Linked DNA regions of Homo sapiens: region 1 is linked to region 2. Evidence: fine-mapped expression QTL. Tissue or cell type: whole blood. Region 2 holds a variant in brackets; the other region holds the start of a gene. All regions are shown on one strand. Distances are from middle to middle.

Evidence for each region. PIP is the estimated chance that this variant, and not a neighbour inherited with it, causes the effect. A credible set is the group of variants that fine-mapping cannot tell apart.
Region 1: CD3E starts here. The variant in region 2 is the best candidate, but not a certain one, in a credible set for the expression of CD3E in whole blood (INTERVAL, PIP 0.78).

What each region holds. Positions count from the first base shown.
Region 1 is chr11:118,302,911-118,306,910 of GRCh38, reverse strand. It overlaps CD3E (CD3 epsilon subunit of T-cell receptor complex), which reads right to left and starts at 2,181. Exons shown (of 9, transcript NM_000733.4): 1 at 2,135-2,181; 2 at 1,910-2,017. The coding sequence starts at 1,958.
Region 2 is chr11:118,429,727-118,434,080 of GRCh38, reverse strand. No RefSeq gene overlaps it. Among named protein-coding and RNA genes, the nearest start is that of KMT2A, 4.6 kb to the left of the region's middle. The variant TA/A (reference allele first, on the strand shown) is at 2,436.

The DNA of each region.
Region 1 (4,000 bases), 130 kb after region 2:
TGGGTACAAACACTGGGATTCTTGTTCCATCTCTGGCTCTGCTTTTCTGGTGGTTCAGTTTTTCCATTTGTTTTCTGCTTGAGACAGAGATGGAAATATTTGAAACCCTGATTACTCATCAACTAGGGCCTGTGCATTGAAGAGCCTGACCACATTTCCACCGGGCCCTCCAGGATGCCCTCACTCAGCAATACCCTGGATTCATTACAATGATCAGTTTCCCTGGCATTGCCTGAAAGCTTTCTGCACACCTAGGCCTTTCTTTTACTGAAACCTCTACACAGGGGGAGACAGGATCCCCACTTTCCTATCCCCAGAGCAGACTGGGCACATTCCTATGATGCCAGATGTCTAGAGGTGATTGGGTCTTTGATACTGTCTCTTTTATTTATTTATTTATTTATTTATTTATTTATTTATTTATCTATTTTGAGACACTCCAGGCTGGAGTGCAGTGGCTTGATCATGGCTTACTGCAGCCTCGACCTCCTGGGCTCAAGTGATCCTTCCACCTCAGCCTCCCAAGTAGCTGGAACTATAGGTGTGTGCCACCTTGCCTGGCTAATTTTTAATTTTTTGTAGAAATGGGGTTTCACTACTTTGCCCAGGCTGGTCTTGAACTCCTGAGCTCAAGTGATCTTCCCACTTTGGTCCCCCAAAATGCTGGGCTTACAGGCGTAAGCCACTGCACCTGGCCCTTCTCCTCCTCCTCCTTCTTCTTTTTTTTAAGGAAAAGCATACTTTATAACACAGGTCTCTAAGAAAATGCCTGGCCACTCCTTACAGGAGTCACATCCTGCCCCTCGCTACTCAATATGTTCCTAGGACCAGCAGCAGATTAATAAACTTGAGAGCGTACTAGACATGCGGAATCTCCATTTCCAGTCTGGGTCTTTTGAAACAGAAGCTGCATTTTTAACAAGATCCCCAGGTGATTTGTGTGCACATTCAAGACGTGAGAAACCCAAGATGAAGCAGGAAGTGGAGACATCGTTGCTGTGGGTCTGAGACGGGAGCACCAGCTGTGATAGTGTTTTCTAGGTCTTTGAAATAAAACCATCACGAGCCATTTTGCCTCATGTGGTGCAGCCATTTAGAGTACAAACAGTCCTGGTCTCACAGATTGGCTTCGGCACTTACTATGTGGTTTAAAACAAGTTATTTAACTTTTTTGAGTATCAATTTCTTAATCTGTGAAGTAGAGAGGACTTATCAGTTTATATAGTCAAAATTAAAAAGAATTTTAAAAAGAGGATATAACACCTTCCTTCCTAGGCAGAAGTAGGATTAAACCAGTTAACACGTCTAAATAATTTTTTCTTTACACAGTATCTGACAATAAATGGCAACTTTTTTTGGTATTATTTATCTCATATGAGATACAGAAATGCTCTTGGTTATTTATCAATTCATAATCCATCTTGCTTCAAAAAAATGAAATAAACTGAAAGTTGTTGGTCACTTGAAAAGGACTAAAAATTACGAGGCGTTTTATGGTCTCAAAGATAGTGAATTGCTATATATGCCCTGTGCAGAGTTTGGACGCAAGTATCTGGTCTCTTCAAAACAAGGAGTGGAGCTTCGCTCTTCCAGTCTCTTTTGGGTTAGTTCTGGAGGGCTGGGTAAGTTGGAATGAGCTCGTACTTAGAGGTAGCGAGACCTCTCTGCTCACAATAGCTATGATCACCCCAACTGCTCTTCTTTGCCTGCTCCCCGAACGCTCTCCCAGGCACCCGTGGCCTATCTTTTTCTTTAGTCCCCAGCTCTAATCCCTCACCCTAACATAGCACAAACAGTTCCTTACATCTGGTAAATGAGGCTCCTTGGTGCCACTAGGCAGTGCCAGGTAAGGCTGTAAGCCTTCCAGCGGTCTGGAGACACACCACCCTTTCCACTCCATCCTACTCACCTGATAAGAGGCAGAGGCCCAGAACTCTCCAGTGAGTGCCCGACTGCATCTTTGTTTCATGGGACTGTTACTTTACTAAGATGGCGGAGGCCAGCAGACTTACTACTTCTGGAAAAAAAGCAAAACAGATGACTTTTTCAAAACATCTGCTAGAGATAAGGACCCTGGGGCCATTGTTCCCAATGCTAGGATGAAAAAGGAGGGCTTTATAAGAGAGAGACTCACCATTTTCTGAAGCAGGCACCTGAGGCTGGGAGGGGAGGAGGGTTTCTGAACCCCACACAGGAAGTAGAGAGGCCTCTGGGCCTGCGGGTTTTACCTCACTTGGAAACGTTCAAGGCAGAGGCCTCCACCTGGACTGGTTGAAGAAAGCTGGGTCCCACAGCCTTCCTAGAAGGCCAAACAAGAGGACTCTGACAATACCTGGAGGGGCCATGAAAAATACATGACATTTAGCTGTCCAGACCATGTAGTAGGTTGGCACAAAAGTAACTGCAGTTTTTGCCATTAAAAGTAATTGTAATACAATATGCCTCCACATTGCGGGGTCTTCCTTCCTCTATAAGCTCTGACAGGAAGAGGGAGATGCACTGAACATTTGCTTTCTGTGTGGTGGATCTGGCATGGAGCAGCAGGGTGCAGCCATCTTATTAACAAAACTTGTTGGCTTGAAAATACATGTTGACTTAAATCCATAAGAATTAAATCCAAAGAAAAAATGCCACTTTTTACCTATATTCTTTACAAAAATATTTAAAAACACAAGACTCAATGTTGAACAGGGTAAAGAGTGATAGTGTCAAAGTCTGCTGGTATGAGTGTGAATTGATGTAACCTTTCTTTATGTTTAAGCATGCATTAATCAAATGCTTACTATATCCAAGCACCGTTCTAAGAGCTTTTCTGATATATCTTATTTAATCCTCAAAACGACCCTCTAAGGTAAGTATTATTTTTATTTTTATTTCCATTTTATACTTGAGCAAACTAAGGCTCAGGCAGGTTATCTAAGTTGCAGATTACAGAGCTGGGACTCTAGAAAACATTTTGATGAAATTCACTTATTTAATACATATTTTCTGTCTACTGTACTGTAGTTATATGCTGGGTGCTAGTAATACAGGAGAAACAAGATAAATAGTCCTCTTGGATAAAAAAGGAAATGTGGAGATTAAACAGATAACCTCATAACCAATAACCATGCCCCGCATGATGGTGTACACCTGTATTCCCAGCTACTCAGGAGGCTGAGGCAGGAGGACTGACTGAGCCCAGGGGTTCGAGACTGCAGTGAGTGTGATTGTGCCTGTGAATAGCCACTGCGCTCCAGCCTAGGCAACATAGTGAGATCCCATCTCTAAAAAACCCCCCAGATAACTTCAGGAGATTGATGCTAAGAAAAAAGACGTTCAGGTGCTGTGGGAGTGATAGAAGGGATCTAAGATAGTCTGGGGTGGGATGGGGAAGAGAAGGTCCCCCTGAGCAGGTGACATCTAAGCTGAAATTTGATGGAGGAACAGCAATGAACCAGGTGGAGTGGAAAGCATTCCAGATAGAGGCAGCAGCATGTTTGAAGTCCAGAGATGAGGAAGAGAAATGGAAAATCCAGCACGGCAGGTAACAGGGAGAACGAGGAGTGTAAGAAATAATATAAGAAATTCGCCAGATATGGTACTTTGGGAGGCCAAAGCAGGCAGATTGCTTGAGGCCAGGAGCTCAAGACCAGCCTGAGCAACATGGTGAAACCCTATCTCTACAAAAAAATACAAAAAATTAGCCGGATGTGATGGTGCTCACCTGTAGTCCCAGCTACTCGGGAGGCTGAGGTGGGAGGATCACTTGAGCTCAGGAGGTTGAGGCTGCAGTCAGCTATGATTGTGCTACTATGCTCCAGCCTGGGCAATAGAGCAAGACCCTGTCAAAAAATAAAAATGAAAAAAATAAAAGAGATAGGAAACTCAGCAGGGGCCAGATGGGAAGGGATTTGCAAGCTATGTTAGGGATTCTTAAGGATTTTCTTAGGGCTGTAGGAAGTATTCAAATAGTTTTAAAAAGGTGAGTGACAGTATCAAATTCTTATAATATTCAAAT
Region 2 (4,354 bases):
TGTTGGAGATTTTAGGGCGAAAATATTAATAATAACATTTTTCAGTGCTTTCTGTGAGCCTAAGTGCTTTATGTGCACTCAATTCTCTCCAATTCTATAAGTTTGATTTTACATATGGGGAAACTGAGGCTTAGAATAATGTCTAAAGTCACACAGCTAGTAAGTAGAAGTGCTAAAACTCACTGGGGTCTGACAGCAAATATCCGTTAACCATCCTGCTGATCATAAAAAGACATTACGACTCCTGTAATCCCAGCACTTTGGGAGGCCGAGGCAGGCGGATCATGAGGTCAGGAGATCGAGACCATTCTGGCTAACACTGAAACCCCGTCTCTACTAAAAATACAAAAAATTAGCTGGGCGAGGTGGCGGGCGCCTGTATTCCCAGCTTCTCGGGAGGCTGAGGCAGGAGAATGGCGTGAACCCCGGGGGGTGGAGCCTGCAGTGAGCCGAGATCGCGCCACTGCACTCCAGCCTGGGCGACAGCAAGACTCCGTCTCAAAAAAAAAAAAAAAAAAAAAAAGACATTCTGTGCCTTACACATTAGGTACCTTAAATTCGATGTGCTTTACTTATTTTTTATTTTAAATTTTCATTCAACATATTTTTCTTGAATACCTAATACATTCATATGGTTAAAAATTTAAGGCCGGGCACGGTGGCTCACGCCTGTAATCCCAGTACTTTGGGAGGCTGAGCTGGGCAGATCACCTGAGGTCAGGAGTTCAAGAACAGCCTAGCCAACATGGTGAAACCCCCGTCTCGACTAAAAATACAAAAATTAGCGGGTGTGGTGGCGGGTGCCTGTAATCAGCTACTCGGGAGGCTGAGGCAGGGGAATCACTTGAACCCGGGGGGCGGAGGTTGCAGTGAGCCGAAATCGCACCACTGCACTCCAGCCTGGGCGACAGAGTGAGACTCCATCTCTAAAAAAAAAAAATTAAAAAAAAAAATTTAAAAGGAGGCCGGGCGTGGTGGCTCACTCCGTAATTTGGGAGGCCAAAGCGGGCGAATCATGAGGTCAGGAGTTTGAAACCAGCCTGGCTAACATGGTGAAACCCCATCTCTATGAAAAATACAAAAATTAGCCGGGTGTGGTGGCAAGTGCCTGTAATCCCAGCTACTTGGGAGGTTGAAGCAGGAGAATCGCTTGAACCTGGGAGGCAGAGGTTGCAGGGAGCTTAGATCCCACCATTGCACTCCAGCCTGGGCGACAGAGCAAGACTCCATCTCAAAAAAAAAAAAAAAAAAAAAAAATTAAAGGAATTAAAGTCCTTAAAGTCCTCACTTTATTTTTGCTCTGAATCATCCTCTCCCCAACCTCAGTAATATTACTTACCCTTTAGTAGGAGTAACTGTTATCAGTCTATTGTATATTCTTCCATACATAGTCTATGCCTACAAAAGCATACACATATAGAAGTTTTTGCATAAATAAAAGCATATCAAACCAATTTCCTGAATCTTGCTTATTTCACTTATATCTTGGAAATATTACTATAAGTAGACAGTTTCCTCATTATTGGGGCTGTATGGAATAGAGATAGAGCTTACTTTAATCAGTTCTCTATCGGTGGGCACTTGAGTTGTTTCCAATCTGTTGCATGTATTTCACACAATGCTGCAGTGCATAACCTTTAATATACGTCATTTTGCAAATGTTCAAATGTATCTGTAGTATAGATTTCTAGAAGAGCAGTTGCTGAGTCAAAAGGTATGTACATTTGTAGTTTTAATAGACAGTGCCAAGTTGTCCCCGGTAAAGGTTATGCTAATTCATACTCCCACCAGCAATGTTCTAGAGTGCCTTTTGGCTGGGTGCAGTGGCTCATGACTGTAATTCCAACACTTCTGGGAGGCAGAGGTGGGCAAATCACCTGAGGTCAGGGGTTCGAGATCAACCTGGCCAACATGGCAAAACTCCGTCTCTACTAAAAATAGAAAAATTAGCCTGGCGTGGTGGCACACACCTGTAGTCCTAGCTACTCAGGAGGCTGAGGCACCAGAATCACTTGAACCGGGGAGGTGGAGGTTGCAATGAGCCAAAATCACCCCACTGCACTCTAACCTGGAAGACGGAGAAGAGTGTCTCAAAAAAAAAAAAAAAAAAGAAGAAGAAAAAAAGAGTGCCTCTTTCATAATTCCAGGACTTCGGGAGGCTGAGATGGGAGGATCTTGAGCTCAGGAGTTTGAGACCAGCCTGGGAAACTTGGCATGTGCCTGTAGTCCCAGCTGCTAGTGGAGCTGAGGTGGCTGAGGCTGCAGTGAGCTGAGATCAGGCCACTGCACTCTAGCCTGGGCAAGAGAGTGAGATGAGACCTTGTCTCAGAAAAAGAAAAAAAATAATTAATTAATAAAATAAAATAAAATAAAATAAATAATAGATAAATAAAAGTGCTCCTTTCTCCACAGCATTCCAAAAAGGGTTTTTTTTT[TA/A]ACTTTTTTGATCTTTGTCAACCTAATGCACATATTTTAAATTTTTTCCAAGTGACAGAAGGAAACTTTTAAGAAGGGAACCCCAAATTTTGCCAATTTCTGCAAACGAATTAATTACTTCTGTTTAAGGGGACTTCTAGATATTTATTCCCTTTCCCCCTCACCTGGAAAGATTTATCTTGAGAACCAATATTGTGACAGAATTAACATCAGCTCAGAGTCACAAATCTGGGCTTGATTTGCATGTCCAATAATGTTAGCTATATGATCTTGAACCAGGCACCCAGCCTCAGTACGTCTTAGTTTCCTAATCTGCAAAAATAAGGATATTAATTATAGCTTCACAAGATTATCATGAAGATTGAATGAGTAAATAAGATGTCTTCTCTCTAATCCAGACAGAAACATTTTCTCCCCAGGGATTTCCTTAACCACTGGTGCGGCTGCCCCTCTGAAATTAGCAATTTTTTCTCCAAAGGGCCCCCAAGTGGACACATTGCATCAGTAGTCCCAAAGTCCTCCAACAAAGAACAGTGGCTGAGTTATTTAAGCTTGTCCAAAGGAAGGCTTGATCATCACTGAGCAGAGAACTGTTCAGAATCCTCAGGTGCTGCTTTTTTTCTGGGGAAAAAAGGGTACAGTCCATTACTCTTCCACAAAAACACTCTTCTAATTAAGGAAGCAATGGCTGCATTTTACCCTGAATCCGTGAATTTCCATTTCTGAGCTTTAAAAAAAAAAAATTATATATATTGGCCGGGCGTGGTGGCTCACGCCTGTAATCCCAGCACTTTGGGAGGCCAAGGTGGGTGGGTGACCTGAGGTTGGGAATTCGAAACCAGCCCGGCCAACATGGAGAAAACCCTGTCTCTACTAAAAATACAAAATTAGCTGGGCGTGGTGGCGCATGCCTGTAATCCCAGCTACTTGGGAGGCTGAGGCAGGAGAATCGCTTGAACCCGGGAGGCAGAGGTTGCGGTGAGTCGAGACTGCGTCATTGCACTCCAGCCTGGGCAACAAGAGCAAAACTTCATCTCAAAAAAATAAATTATATATAGCTATTCCTATGACTAAAAGGACTTTTTTGTTTGTTTGAGACAGAGTCTCACTCTCGTCCAGGCTGGGGTGCAGTGGTGCAAACTCGGCTCACTGCAACCTCCGCCCCAGAGTTCAAGCGATTCTCCAGCCTCAGCCTCCTGAGTAGCTGGGATTACAGGCGCCCACCACGACACCCGGCTAATTTTTGTACTTTTTTTTTTTTTTTTTTTTTTGAGACAGAGTCTCGCTCTGTCATCCAGGCTGGAGTGCAGTGGCGTGATCTCAGTTCACTGCAACCTCCACCTTCCGGGCTCAAGGAATTCTCCCACCTCAGCCTCCCTAGTAGCTGGGATTACAGGTGTGTGTCACCAAGCCCAGCTAATTTTTGTATTTTTAGTAGAGACAGGGTTTCACCATGTTGGCCAGGCTGGTCTTGAACTCCTGACCTCAAGTGATCCATCCATCCCAGCCTCCCAAAATGCTGGGATTACAGGTGTGAGCCACTGCACCCAGCCTTAATTTTTGTACTTTTAGTAGAGATAAGGTTTCGCCACCTTGACCAGGCTGGTCTCGAACTCCCGACCTTAAGTGCGGGTCAGGAGTTCGGCTTCGGCTTCCAAAGTGCTGGGATTATAAGCATAAGCCACCGTGCCCAGCCTAAAAGGACTTTAAATACAACCCTAGCATAGGCATCTGGCTTTCTGTAAAGAGGTCAGGAGTTCGAGACCAGCCTGGCCAACATGACAAAACCCTGTCTCTACTAAATATACAAAAATTAGCCAGGCATGGTGGCGAATGCCTGTAGTCCCAGCTACTCGGGAGGCCCAGGCAGGAGAATCGCTTGAACCTGGGAGGCAGAGGTTGCAGTGAGCTGCGATCA